Homo sapiens: one gene and its partner. The protein of the gene in region 1 purifies or fractionates together with the protein of each later gene. This does not show direct contact. Each region holds a gene or a part of one and is shown on either strand. Other genes may lie near its edges.

Region 1 (7,023 bases):
AAGGAGGAGAAATGCTAGCACTCACCATTCTGGACATCTTGAGAGCCCAGTAAAATGATGAGTTGGACTGAAGTGTTCAATAAACATGAGATTGTGGAAATAATCTCATTTCTTAAGACAAACCAGTAGTTGAGAATAATGATTGCATTATGAAGGGCACGTTATAGGGTCAGGCTCTGCCACGCTCTAGCTAGGTGGCCTTGGGAAAGCTCTTTTTTTTTTAACAAAGTAAAATGGGGAAATGATGGCCATTTTTTTGGATTGTTATGAGGGCTAGCTCAGAAACCGCGTGTGAAACATAACACAATACTTTGTTCAGAGAAGATACTCAATTCTAATGGTAAATAGAATTGCTGTTACTAGCTTTTTATTCAACTACACATAAATTGAATTGCATGAATTGTTCTTTTAGTAGTCACTACGTTGTTTATATAAACACTACGTTGTTTATATATTTCACTTTATAATGAAATAAATGACAAGGCATGTATTTTTTTTTTCTTTTTAGGTTTATTGAAGTCAAAATGTCCAAAAAAATCAGTGGCGGTTCTGTGGTAGAGATGCAAGGAGATGAAATGACACGAATCATTTGGGAATTGATTAAAGAGAAACTCATTTTTCCCTACGTGGAATTGGATCTACATAGGTAAATGAGTTACCCCTCCGTGTAGCAAACTCAGAAAGGATAATCTGGCTGGGCATGGTGGTGCACACGTGAAGTCCCAGCTACTTAGGAGGCAGAGGCAGGAGGATCCCTCAAGACCAGGAATTCAAGTCCAGCCTGGGCAACAGAGTGAGACCCCATCACTTTAAAAAAAAAAGGAAAAAAAAGGGAAGGAGAAACAGGAAAAAAAAAAAGAATATAATCTGAATTATTTTGAGGTGAAGTTAGCTTTTTTTATATAGATATAGCTGTGTTTTGTGAATAAAGTTTGTTTTAAGCCTAAATATATTCAGATGAATCTTCTAATTTTAACATACTGCTAGAAAAACTGGATTTATCATCTAAAAGTCAAGAATTATAAGGGAAAGAATGATTTTCAGATTCTTCTAACCTTCTGTTTCCTGTGAAGGTTTTATTTGTAATAAAACAGTGGCTAAGAATAGTACAATGTATTGAGAAAAGGGAAATAAGAGAGGATGTAAGAAACAGTAAACTAAATGCAGTTAACACAATTTTGTCATTTCAAACTCAATTTTCTATCACTTTACTTAGTCAATGGACCTGTTTCCTTTTCATGCCTCACCTTTTGCCCTTTTCATACAATTGTAGTGCAGAAAGAATTCATGATGTTTCTTAGTTGAACCCCTCCTTTCCAGCAAAATTCCCTTAAATCCTGTGTCCCTTTGCCCTGTGTGTAAAGTGCCTGGGGACAGATGCAAAAGTCTATGTAATTCTCTCATTTTTTTCGCTGTGTTTTTCATAAACTTGCTTCTGTTCTTTGTACCTTTAGGTAGAGATAGAATTTTTAAAAGGGTAAAGTGGCTGAAGACTGGCATAGAAAAATATTGAGCAACACGTTTCAGCCAAACTATTGGCAACTCTAAGTGTGTTTGCCTCAGCCCAGAATTAGTCATCAAAATTTGTCCTAAGGACCTGTTTGAGTGGAGACATTTAATTCACATAATGTCATTAAACATACTTTTTAATTGTTCTAAACCTAAGCTGCTGATGTCTATATTGAAATCATGATAAGATATAAATACTTGCAGAAGTCAACCAAACATAAGAAATTAGGCATAAAAACATCTTCCAACTAGGTTAAAAAAAAAAAGCATCTTAGGAACTCCTGTTTCAGGACTTTACATGACAGTAGGTGAACTGGCAGGGTTCTTTTCCTTATAATGGCTGCAACTAAAGATGCTTTGAGCCTCTTTAGTGTGGAATCATGAGGAGTTTTAAAGGGGAGTCACTATGACTAGGAGGAAAAAATTTGGTGGCTGCAGACTAGATAATTTTTGGAGGCTCAAACAAGTTTTAAATTTTTCCAAAATTCCTATTATTATCACTGACTGGTTCTTTTTCAGGAGAATGGAGCAGGTAGTTTGTTTTATGTAGGCTGGACAGTGGTCTGGGCAATTTGTTCCTTCCTTTCTTATCTTCTTAGAAATGTTAAGAAGACAAGCAAAAAATCTAATAATTTGCTGATAGATTCTCCTTATGAGAAATGGTTCCTAGGAACTTGAAAACTACTGATCATACTTCCTGTTGGAGTTGGGATTGGATCAACATTTCCTATGCAAGAAGATAACAAAGGACATGACTTTGTTAGATTTATATGAATTATCTAAAGTCGAAGCAGTTGGAAGTTATTTTTATTTGGAAATATGTCAAGATTACTATCTCTTTGTTTGCATCATGAGTTGGGTAGGAGATCTAAGAAAGGAAGATAAGGGAACCAAAAAGAAATCTAGAGGCAGGTTTTAAGAGCTGAAAAACCTTTTAAATCCTTGGAGAACAGAATAAACAAAACATTATTTTGTTTTCTTGCTTTTTAACAAACTATTGCATGCTTCAAATAAAGCTTTGCAGTCATTTTCTATGCTCCCTGGACAACTAACATTCTTTCAGCTCTGAATGACCTGCAATCTTTGTGTTGGTGTATATTAAGCTATTACTCTCTGGTATGTAGAAAACCATTGATGGATTCCTTTACTTACCCAATAAATTGTAGGCTTGTTTCCAGAGCAAACACTTGCTCAAGAATTACAGAAGGAATTAGCTGGGCATGGTGGTGCATGCCTGTAGTCCCCGCTACTGGGGAGGCTGAGGCGGGGGAATCACTTGAACCCAGGAAGGCAGAGGTTGAGTGAGCCAAGATCGTGCCACTGCACTCCAGCCTGGGCAACAAAACGAGACTCATCTAAAAAAAAAAAAAAAAGGGAAAGGCTCATTTTATGACTAACTGGCATTAATGAAGTAGTCATTCGCATTTTTGGCATCAACTGTCACATCTTTACCTCCCACCACTTCAACGTCAAAATACAAAAAATCCTTTAACCCCTCCCACCCCCTTTTATTTTTAAAGAGCAATATTTACTAAGGGAAAAAGGTGGTCCTTAGACTTACACTTATTATACTAATTATATGGAGAGAAACCAGGCCATTATTGCCTCTATCTGGTGAAAAACAGGAGGCAAAGGGCAGAGTTTGATGGTTTCCATTCATTTTCCTGATAGACAGCTTCCCATTACAAGAGGAGGGGCAGCCCAGCAGTCTAGCCTCTCTTAGTTCTCTTTGTAGTTGGCACCCATCTTCTGTGTTTAGGGTGTGCCAGTGCTAAAACTTGGCAGATTTTGGTGTACTCAGAGCCTTCGCTTTCTGCATAATGAGCTCTATATGCCATCACTGCAGTTGTAGGTTATAACTATCCATTTGTCTGAAAAACTTTGCTTCTAATTTTTCTCTTTCAAGCTATGATTTAGGCATAGAGAATCGTGATGCCACCAACGACCAAGTCACCAAGGATGCTGCAGAAGCTATAAAGAAGCATAATGTTGGCGTCAAATGTGCCACTATCACTCCTGATGAGAAGAGGGTTGAGGAGTTCAAGTTGAAACAAATGTGGAAATCACCAAATGGCACCATACGAAATATTCTGGGTGGCACGGTCTTCAGAGAAGCCATTATCTGCAAAAATATCCCCCGGCTTGTGAGTGGATGGGTAAAACCTATCATCATAGGTCGTCATGCTTATGGGGATCAAGTAAGTCATGTTGGCAATAATGTGATTTTGCATGTTTTTTTTTTCATGGCCCAGAAATTTCCAACTTGTATGTGTTTTATTCTTATCTTTTGGTATCTACACCCATTAAGCAAGGTATGAAATTGAGAAATGCATATATGTATAACTGTATATTTACACACATTTAGCTAAAGGCAAATACAAATAAACTTACAAATAGGCGTCCATCTCAACACATTTTTTTTCAAACATGCTGTTTTTTTTCCTTTATCCTTTTATTCAGTTATACCATATGATATTGCCATTTTTATGTTGGTAATTTCATATGGTTCAACCAGATCTGTGGTTTTCAACACTGGCTGCACAATAGGATCCCCTTACAAGTTTTTTTGGTGGTTTTGTTTTGCTTTGCTTGATTTGTTTCTTTGTTTTAGTTTCAATGCTTGAGTACCACCCTACACAAATTAAAATCTGAATTCCATGGGGTTCAGGCATTTTAAAGCTCCCCAGGTGAATCTAATGTGCAAACTTGAGAACCACCAAAGATTGTATTAAACATGATCCCATCATGCATAAAAGAAAAAACTGGCTGGGTACTATGGTTCACACCTGTAATCCTAGCACTTTGGAGGCCAATTTGGAAGCACTGCTTGAGGCCAGGAGTTTGAGACTAGCCTGGACAACATAGCAGAACCCTGTCTCTACAAAAATGAAAAGTATTTCAATAATTATGTCAATTGTTCATGGAAGAGCCAGTTTTGTTTATTCATATACAAAGTGAGTAGGCGAAGCTGAGTGGGGTGGCATGTGCCTATAGTCCCAGCTACTTGGAAGGCTGAGGCCTGAGGATCCCTTAAGCCTAGGAGTTCAAGGTTACAGCTATGAGCTATGATCACACCACTGCCTACGCAACAGAGCAAGACCCTGTCTCGAAAAAGAAAAAGAAAAAAAAAACTGACTCGGTAGTTGAAAGCAGCCTTACTAAAGCATTCCTTCCTGCCTGGAAAAAAAGTATTGCTTCTTTACTTCTGTACCAGTACACTTGTTGCCAAATTAAGCAAAAAAACTGCCAAGTAAACAAAATCAAAGTTCAGTGTTGAAACTGAGGTTTCAGACTTTCACAGAAAGTAGTTTATGTCTTAAAAGGACCTTAAAAACAGGAATCTCTCATGCTGAAATCCAGAGGTTTTAATGTAGCCATCATTGAAAACAGTGTGTTGAGGGTAAACAGTTTAGTCCTTGAGGGGTCAGTTAACTTTGTTCCACTCTGTGGCTAAAACTATCCTTTCATCCTGGCCAAAGCCTTCAGAAATAGCTCCCAGGGGCCCAAGCAAGGGAAGGTAGATGGCAGTGGTGCAAACTCGCTAATCTTGTAAAAATCACCCTAGATTCTTTCCAGTTCAGTCGTGCCTTTTTTCTGCGTATATCCTTTTTGTTTTTTGTTTTTGAGACAGAGTCTCGCTCTGTCGCCCAGGCTGGAGTGCAGTGGTGTGATCTTGGCTCACTGCAACCTCTGCCTCCCGGGTTCAAGCAATTCTCCTGCCTCAGCCTCTTGAGTAGCTGGGATTACAGGCACATGCTACCATGCCCGGCTAATTTTTGTGTTTTTAGTAGAGACGGGGTTTCACCATGTTGGTCAGGCTGGTCTCAAACTCCTGACCTTGTGATCCGCCCGCCTCCGCCTCCGCCTCCCAAAGTGCTGGGATTACAGGCATGCCACCATGCCCGGCCTTCCTCTTTTTTTTTTTTTTTTTAATTATTTTGGCATCAGTCATTTGTAAAAATGGCCATTCTATTTATTAAAGTCCAGAAAGAGAATTTCAAACCTCAGGTTGATTCATGGACTGTTTAAATATACATAAACCTATACAAAGCATTTATGGTGCTTTGGTACCTCAGTTTCTCCCTTTTCAGAAATAGTAATAAATTACCACCCATATTTACTTTATGGATTTTATATGTCAAAAATGTTCTGTGTAAAGTAGGTGTTTAATCTTTATTGTTACTTACTGCTCTTTTACCAGTTGTTATTAGTATTTCTCTACACTTATAGATGTGGCCGGCACCTGCTGGTACCTAACTCTGCAAGTATCTGATTCAATTCATTGAAGAAGATACAATGCAGCAAAGACTTATGGATGTCTAGTATATGCCAGGCATATTATTCCACTGAGTAGCTGAGGCCCATGAGGGAGGTGCCTGTCCTTGAACAGCCCTTTCCTAAAAATCATCATCATCCCATTGTAGCTGCTCCCAGAATGATTTGATTGCTCCATATGAACAAGTCCTATAACACTAGTAACAATGATACCATGAGAGACCGAGCCCCGATGGCCTAAGTAAGGACGAGACCTCAAGTCCTTTGACCCTGGATGCATTATTTCTACTATATCATAGTTCCCTCCTTGTAAGACTGATGTAAGAATCAAATGAGATTATGCAAGTTAAGCATTTAAAGCATCTGGCATAGAGTAAGGACAAAGCATTAGCTACCTCAGTACTACAATTAGTATTGTTATCATCACCCTCTAGGGAGACTTCCCTGACTTCCTTCCATGGTCACCTCTTTTCCTCTGTCATCCTATAGTTTTTTTTTTTTTGGGGGGGGGGTCTAATACCCTCTTTTGGCATTTGAAAGCTCTTATATTGCTTTTCACTTATATATGTCTTTATAGGGTTGTAAACTTCCTAAAGGAAAGTGGCTTATGTTATTCTCTGTCCTCTTCAAATCAGTGCTCAGAAAACTTTCCTATACCTCGTATAGGCACCTAATAAATATTTACTGATTTAGGGGAATGTCTGGACCTCTTCATCCCCATCTCCTAAAAAAAAAAAAAAAAAAAGAAGTTTGACATACTGCCCTATTTGTCTAGGTGTCTTCTAGGTCTATATTATATGAATATTCTCCTTACAATTCCTGCTAGGGTATTTTTTTTTTCTTTATACCTTTTTCCCCTCTACACAGTACAGAGCAACTGATTTTGTTGTTCCTGGGCCTGGAAAAGTAGAGATAACCTACACACCAAGTGACGGAACCCAAAAGGTGACATACCTGGTACATAACTTTGAAGGTATGTATGACTGTAGCATAAGCTTCTTTTTTTTTTAAACAAATGATTTAGATAATATTTTTATTGCTTTTTTTGTTAGTTATGTGACTGCCTAAAAATATAATCTGAATCTACAGTGTTTTTGCAAAACCCGAAACTTGACATAAAGAAGTAATTTGCTTCCATACCTTCCTGTGGCATGAATAAAGGCACAAAAGGGTTACCCACTTAATTGGAAATGCCTTTAGGCAAAGACAAGGAGATGATTATGCATTTATCTTAAAGCA
Region 2 (7,798 bases), on another chromosome or scaffold:
TCAGTTTATTAAGTAAATTTTTCAGTTTACTTTATGTTTTCAGTAACCAAAGCACCTGCTGTGGTTTGAATGTGTCCTCCCCAAATTCATATGTTGACACTTAATTGCCAGTGTGATAGTATTAAGATATGGGGCTTTTCAGAGTGATTAAATCATGAGAGCTCATGAATGTGACTAGTGCCCTTATAGAAGAGGTACAAGGGAACTGTTTATGTCTTCTGCCCCTTCCATTATGTGAGGACACAGAGAAGGTATAATCTATGAGGAACAGGCTCTCATCAGACCCTTGTTAAAAGAAAAACTTTAGACAAATTAACTTTAGCAGAGTTTATTTGAGCAAAGAACAATTCATGAATCAGGCAGCACTCTGAACCAGTAGAGGTTCAGAAAGCCCCACTCAGCAATGTGAGCAGGCAGTATTTATAGGCAGAAAGAGGAATTGAGGTACAGAAACAGCTTGATTGATTATGGCCCAGCATTTGCCTTATTTGGGCACAATGCAATGTGGCATTTGCCTTATGTGGACATGGTCTTATTAGTTGGTAGTATGTGATTGGATGAAACCTGGCTGCTGTAATTAGCTGAGACTCAGCTATCTGTTACAAGAACATACTCTTAAGTAAGGTTTATTTAAACACTAACTTAGGTGCAGTTTGCTATGCAGAATTCCAAAGTATGGAAGCAGCTTTTGGCCAAATTTAATTTAATTTAACATATTCAATATGCTGGTGCCTTGATCTTGGACTTTCCAGCCTCCAGAACTGTGAGAAATACATTTCTTCTTGTAACTTACCCAGCCTAAGATATTTTGTTGTAGCAGCAAGAATGGACTAAGATAGCATCTGGGAAATAATTAATAATGTATAATCTTTTAACACCTGAATAATGCAAATATTGATCTAGAGATTACCTTACATCTTGACATTCTGTAAGCCCTGCTTAACTACTGCACCACAGAAGGCCGTATAGCTAGAGACTGCAGAGCTGAGACTTGAACCCTAGAAGCCTAACCACAGAATTCCTGCTCTTTATTATTTTGCTGTCAACACTTGATTCTGAGGTTGTGCAAATTCACTGTGTAAAAATCAAGAGGCACATATAGTTTGAAATATAAAGCAGACGTGTGGGGGAAAGGAAGACCAGAAGAGATGATCCTCTTCTATGTCATGTTATTAAGTATGAACTTTGGATCTCAAAGGCAGTGGGGAAAACCAATGACAGGTTTTAAGCAGAAATAAAGTGATCAGTCTTGAATGTATACAAGATCACTCTGGTGCATTTTACTCTTTTAGGTTTCCTTAGTATCTTATCATAATTTTCAATTTCATTCCAGGCCTTAAGCCCTCTCCAAGTATCTCATGCATTTATTTTACTTTTTTTCTGAGAAAACTACACTTTATAAAAATCAATCTATTTTTTCTTTAATCATTGAACAAATATTAAATACACACTAGTTAATACAAGGGACTCCTTTAAAGGATCTATGAAAATAAGCTTGCAAAATATGCAAATTAATGGGTGTCTTGCACTATAAAACAATACTTAGATTTACAGATTTATGTGAAATTTCAGATTTATGTCCTTCAAACCTACTAGAAGCAAATTGTTTGAAGGACTATGTTCTCCATATATTAAAGGACTATTGTGATAAAATGAAGCACGCATGCACTTTTATAAGTGACTCAAATGACCTACTTAAAAACTGCTATTTCTAGTGAAACCAGTTAATCAACATTTGAAAAACAAGTCTTCAGATGCCCCTGGTTATCATCCTGGGGAGTACACCATCAACTGTGAGAATAGGATGTCATATCTTGCACTAATGAGATATGCTAATGCATCATATTTTAGGAGAATTAAAATGAAACTCCTTAAAACAGAGAATAATTTACAATCTAATAAACTCTGACACATTACCTGCATGTATCTGATAAAATGGTGCCACACAGTCATGCCTTGCTTAATGACAAAGACAGGTTCTGAGAAATGAGATGCTAGGCTATTTTGTCATTGTGCTAATACAGAATATACTGACATAAACCTGGATGGTCTAACCTACTACACACCTAGGCTATATGGTATGGCTTATGCTCCTAGGCTACAAACTTGTACAGCATGTTACTGTACAATATTTAGTAGGCAATTGTAACATAATGGTAGTTATTTGTGTATTTAAATTTTTCTGTTCTTTCTTTTATTTTGAGACAGAGTCTTGCTCTGGCATGCAGAGGAGCAATCTCGGCTCACTGCAACCTCTGCCTCCCAGGCTCAAGCAATCCTCCTTACTCAGTCCCCACTGCCCACCCCACCCCAGTAGCTGGCTACAGGTGTGCTCCACCACACCAGCTAATTTTTTTGTTTGTCTGTTTTTGTAGAGACGGGGTTTCACCATGTTGCCTAGGCTGGTCTCGAACTCCTGGGCTCAAGCGATCCACTTGCCTTGGCCACCCAAAGTGCTGGGATTGCAGGCGTGGGCCACTGCACATGGCTAAACATTTCTAAACATAAAAAAGCTACAGTAAAATATGTTATTATAATCTTATGGGACCACCATCATATATGCTGTCCATTATTGACCAAAATGTTATGTAGCACATGACTTGGTGTATGTACACCCACACCCACACATACACATACGTATCATAACATAATACAAAAAAACAAAAAAAAATACAAAAAAACAAACAAAAAAATCTTTCCTCATTGCATGACTGGAATCAGACCTTTTGTTTAAAGGCTTTGAATCCAATTCTCCCAGTTTTTAAAAGTGTGGAAGTTAAACTGTAAGATTCCACAAAGAAAGGTTTCCAGAATATAACATATTTGCCAGAAACTGCCTTTCAAAGCAAGTGGGAAATATCCTTACTAGTTCGGAAAAGTTCAGATATTTAAAAGAAGTAAAATTTTGCACACCAATTAAAATTGAAGTGCCTTTGTGTAACTAGAAGTGAAATCAGCACATAAGAACTTTTTTTGTAATTTGTAATCTAATTTATTCAAGTTGAAGAGACTTGCACATTATTTAAAAAGTATAAAATGAAGTCACAGTCATCAAAAATACAGTACAGTGTGTTTTGACCATACAGTAATTAGGGTGATTTTCTCAGGAGACTTAGTCACATAGCATGCAACATTTAAAATGTGTCTTCCTCAGCCAAGAGCAACAAAGTGAGACCAGCCAAGAGTCAGTCATATGACCACCGGCAAAGTTGCCAATGCAGTTTTTCCATTTCATGTGCCCTGTGGAAGGGCAAAAGTGGAAAAGCAGACCCAATCGCAATGGGCAAAAGTGGAAAAGCAGACTCAATTGGAATGCTAGTTTTTTTCACATTGTGTAAGTTAAAGGTACAACAGCTGCTATATGCTAAATTATCACTAGTTATGGGACTTTAGTTACAGTACTTGAATTTCCCCCCAATCCAACTTCTTAAAATGTGTTGAAATACCAACTAGCAATAAGTTAATTTCTCCAGTGTAATTGAATAGTCTAACTTGGTATCTTACTCCTTAACTGATTTTGACTAAAATTATAATATTTACAGGAAAAAAAAAAGTTCAGAGTTAAAAGAATACCATGAAAGGGCAAATGATTTTATGGACAAACTTTGAACTGCATCTTCACTGTTCATTACCTTACTGTATTTGCTAAGGAAGCTAAGATCTCATTTAATTTTTGTGTGCTTTGCTTTGGTTCAAAACTAACATCACATTCTCAGAACTTGGTCAGGCCTTAATCAAATAAAATGCTATTGAGCTTCCACTTGGTCTTTCCACTCTGCTAAGTGCAAAGACAGTTCTGGAGAAATCAGTCGTGGCTCATGTCCTCAAGGAGTTGGTCAAAAGACAAGGCTTGGCGAATATGTACGTGCCATGTCAATGAACTGCTACAATGGAATAAACTTATAATAATGCCTAACATTTATTGACTCCTCATAATAAGGCCATAAACTTTGCATGAATTAACTCATAGAAACGTTATGACGTTGTATCACAAGCAATCCTAATTTGCAGATGAGGACACTGAGGCTTAGGGAAGTTATCTAACTTGCCTAAGGTTAAAGCAATATACTGCTTTTATGGTTGCATCTTTAGTAATCTCTGGGGTTGCTGGGACTCCAGTGCGAGAAAGAGCCCGAAATTCGCAAACTTGGATGATGGGGAAGAAAAGGTGTGCTAAACTCAGGTCACAGAGGTCCAGTCTTAATCTTGTTCCTCTGCAAGCCTTGTTGCTCACACCTCTTGACCGACAGTTCGAGGCAAGTGCTCACAGCAAACTTACTCTATGTAAGCCAAGGCCAGATGTGGGGAGAAGGGGCTGAGAAATGTTAGAAACGTGAACGCAGTCCAGGCGGGAGAAGAGAAGGGGGCCTCGAGGGGTGCCCCTATGCAGCCCACACACACGCCAGGCACTAACTTGGAAAAGCAACAAGCTTGGCGGGAGATCCTCCCGCGGCCGGAGGGCCCTGAACCCTAGGCCAAGACTCATCCACAACCTAGGGGGAGGCGGCCACCAGCGCCCCATCGAAGCTAAAGGGCTGACAGAAGGGCTGTAGCGGCAAGTGTGCGCCAACACAGCTGCACACGCCCAGACACCTGAGGCGCTGAGAGGAACTTCCCCGCGATCCGCCCCGGCTGCACAGAGCCTCTTCTCCCCGCCGGGGCCCCGCCCAGCCTCACTTCTTTTAAAAGCAGCAGCCAGCAGCGCGCCGGTGGCGTGCGGCTCGAAAGGCCGGGAGGACGTCATCGACGCGCTGTCGAGCCTCCAGCCCGCCCGGGTTTCCTTCGCAGTCGCGCACCGACGCTCAAACGCGCGCTCCAACCCGCAGCCTCCTCCTGCCTCACCGCCCGAAGATGGCGGCTCTCAAACTCCTCTCCTCCGGGCTTCGGCTCTGCGCCTCTGCCCGCGGATCTGGGGCAACCTGGTACAAGGTAAAGTGCGGGGGAAGAGGAAGGCCATGGGCAGGAAGAACGTGGACCAAACCCTGAGTGGTGCCCGCGTTTTCTTCTCTGCCCCTACCCGCTCTCTCCAGCCTGGGATCTGGCATCCGTGGCGCGGTGCCCTGGTCACGGACACGCGGCGACGCGTTCCTGGCCTCGCCGGCCCCTCGGATGACCGCCTTTGCTTGGTTCTGCAGTCGCTTCCCTGATGGAGCGAGACGCGATAAAGAAGCGCGCGGAGAGGCTGAGAAGGGGCGGGAGGACTCCTGGCAGCGCTCCCGAGCCCTTTGGCGCTCGTCGGCTTCCCTCCTGGCACCCGCCCTTGGATAGGGACTCTGAGGGTCTGAACGGGGGGAGGAGGGCGCCAGTATATGGAGGTTTAGGAGTGAGGCAACAGCGGGTAGGTTTGCGCCCCCGATGTTGGATCTCTGGGCAGAGGAACCTCTAGAGGCCCAGAACCTGAGGCTGGGTTAGCCATGGCTCTGCTCGAGTTCACCGGGGCTGGATGCCGGGTGCGGCGGGTGTGGAATGCCGCTCCCATCCTCTCCTCCCTATTTGGCTCTGCTGCCCCGTAGACTGGAGCGCTCGCCAGGGCGTCTTGCCGGCCAAGCTGGGAAACCATCCGAGGTGTGTCCCTGGCCCGCGCCTGGGCTGCAGGGGAGGACAAACCTTTCTCTCGAGGCCCCTCGTATCCGGGTTAGGGGCTTTCGGTTTTCAGAGCCCTTTGAAATCCTTTTTGTGCCCCACTGCCGACTCTCCACCGAGTGGTATCCGGAGGCATTCCCACCGTGGACTGACTTGTGGTTTTGCCTTATGCACTGTCCTCGCTTGTAAGCCCACCCCTGTCTGGAGCCCTAGGAGCGAATTACAGGACCAGAGCGCCAGGTCCAGGAGGGTGGCTTTATCCCCGCCGTCTCAATCGCGGGAGCCTCTTCCTTGGTATTCAGTAATAGGTCTGAGCTTGACAGCGTGCCATGCACACGGTGCTTACTCCTGAAGCGTGCCTGCCTGGCCCCATTGCTCTTTCCTGCATCCAATCCCTGACCGCTGAGAACACAGAGGAGCCACTGAGCTCCTTCGGTAGGTGCTAGGGAATGGTTCAGAACTGGACCATTTTACTCTTAAATGCCTCTTAGGAAGCATTTTTATAACTGCAGATAGACTTGGATATATAAAGCATTATTAAAAGGGAACTTGACCTTCAGTGAGATTGCAGCGGTGCTGAAGCTAATACAAACCAGAGCACAGCGATACCCTTGGGCCGAGGTCAGGAACGTTCCTTCTTTTGACAGTTACTGATTTGCCCAACTGTAATTTACTCACTTCAAGTCTTTTCCATCTTGAGTATATCATTAAACCATTTCCGAAGCTCAGCAAACCTCATCTTAGAGGGACGAGATGCAAATAAGGGGTTCTGCTATATCTCATTAAAAGTTCATACAGAGTTCAAACTTAGCCCTGTCAGGCTTGATTATCATAGGTCTAACTCCTGCCTTCCACTATTCCCCTAGCTTGTGGCTCTTAGTGCCCTTATTGTTTTTTTTTTTTTGAGACGGAGTCTCGCTCTGTCGCCCAGGCTGGAGTGCAGTGGCGGGATCTCGGCTCACTGCAAGCTCCGCCTCCCGGGTTCACGCCATTCTCCTGCCTCAGCCTCCCAAGTAGCTGGGACTACAGGCGCCCGCCACTACGCCCGGCTAATTTTTTGTATTTTTAGTAGAGACGGGGTTTCACCGTTTTAGCTGGGATGGTCTCGATCTCCTGACCTCGTGATCCGCCCGCCTCGGCCTCCCAAAGTGCTGGGATTACAGCCCTTATTGTTTAGCACTTTAAATCCTCACCTGCTGCTTCTGTTGAACTGTACCACTTATCTACTTGTTTAACTTTTCAGATGTGTATATTGTCTCCTCAACCAGATGACAGTTCCCCGATGGCAGAGACCATATTTATGCCTTACACTTAGTCTCCCTCAACAAACACACTACTCTGCATAGATCAGATATTCTACACATGTTTAAAGTACGGATGAGAGAACCCTCCAGGCAAACAGAAACCTTGAGTTTTTCCACTAAACATAACTAACAGCTAAAACGAGATAGTTATTTTCTTAAATGTTTAACATTTTTATAATGGGCAGGCCCAGTGTCTCGCAGACCTGAGAGTGCATCAGCATTACCTGGAGGTTTTCTAAAACAGATTGCTGTACCCACCCCCAGAATTTCTAATTTAATAGGTCCTGGGTGGGGCCCTAAACTTTGCATTGATAAGTTCCAGGTGATGTTGATGCTGCTGGTCTGGGGACTGACTGCCCCTTTCAGAGTTATCTGGCATGGACTTAGGTGAAAATAGACTATTGGGAGGTATCTTCTTTTCTTCATTATTACTGAGGGGCAGTGGGGAGCATTTAATACTATTTTCACTATAGAAAATTATTAGTGGGAAAAAGGTTATAAGAGTACCACTAACACTTTACCCACCATTCATCCTTGACCCTGTCTTTTCCCAAATCTCTTTCCAACCTCTGACTCTCCTGAGCTGCAGTCCTTCTGGTGCAACTGGTGAACTTCACTTGGATGTCAGTTGGTGCTTAAAGCTCTTTCTGATCCAAAGCAAACTAGCCATAAAGTGGCTTTCCCATTCCTTGTTTTGTTCTTCTATCACTGTGCTTAACAGCACCAGTATCCATCCAGTATATAAGCTGGAAATCCTGGAACCATCTTCTCTTCTCCTTGCTGCACTTCCAATTGATCACCAAGTGTCATATGTGTGCCTCTTTCTGAAATGTTCCTCAGTGCTGTCCCTGGCATTCTTTCTCAGCAACTGTTTCTTCCTTATAGCTCCCCAATTAAATACTATGATTGTG

Evidence for each region.
Region 2: the proteins of IDH1 (region 1) and OXCT1 fractionate together in Homo sapiens (co-fractionation; 2 studies listed by BioGRID). This does not show direct contact.

Annotation. Positions count from the first base shown.
Region 1 is NC_000002.12:208,245,053-208,252,075, reverse strand, and holds part of IDH1 (isocitrate dehydrogenase [NADP] cytoplasmic), read left to right. Parts: intron 1-508; 5' UTR 509-524; coding exon 525-646; intron 647-3,415; coding exon 3,416-3,707; intron 3,708-6,651; coding exon 6,652-6,757; intron 6,758-7,023. UniProt on the Homo sapiens protein: Catalyzes the NADP(+)-dependent oxidative decarboxylation of isocitrate (D-threo-isocitrate) to 2-ketoglutarate (2-oxoglutarate), which is required by other enzymes such as the phytanoyl-CoA dioxygenase.
Region 2 is NC_000005.10:41,867,412-41,875,209, reverse strand, and holds the start of OXCT1 (succinyl-CoA:3-ketoacid coenzyme A transferase 1, mitochondrial isoform 3 precursor), read left to right. Parts: upstream 1-4,784; 5' UTR 4,785-4,851; coding exon 4,852-4,929; exon of another isoform or gene 4,930-5,466; coding exon of another isoform or gene 5,467-5,565; intron 5,566-5,607; exon of another isoform or gene 5,608-7,798. UniProt on the Homo sapiens protein: Key enzyme for ketone body catabolism.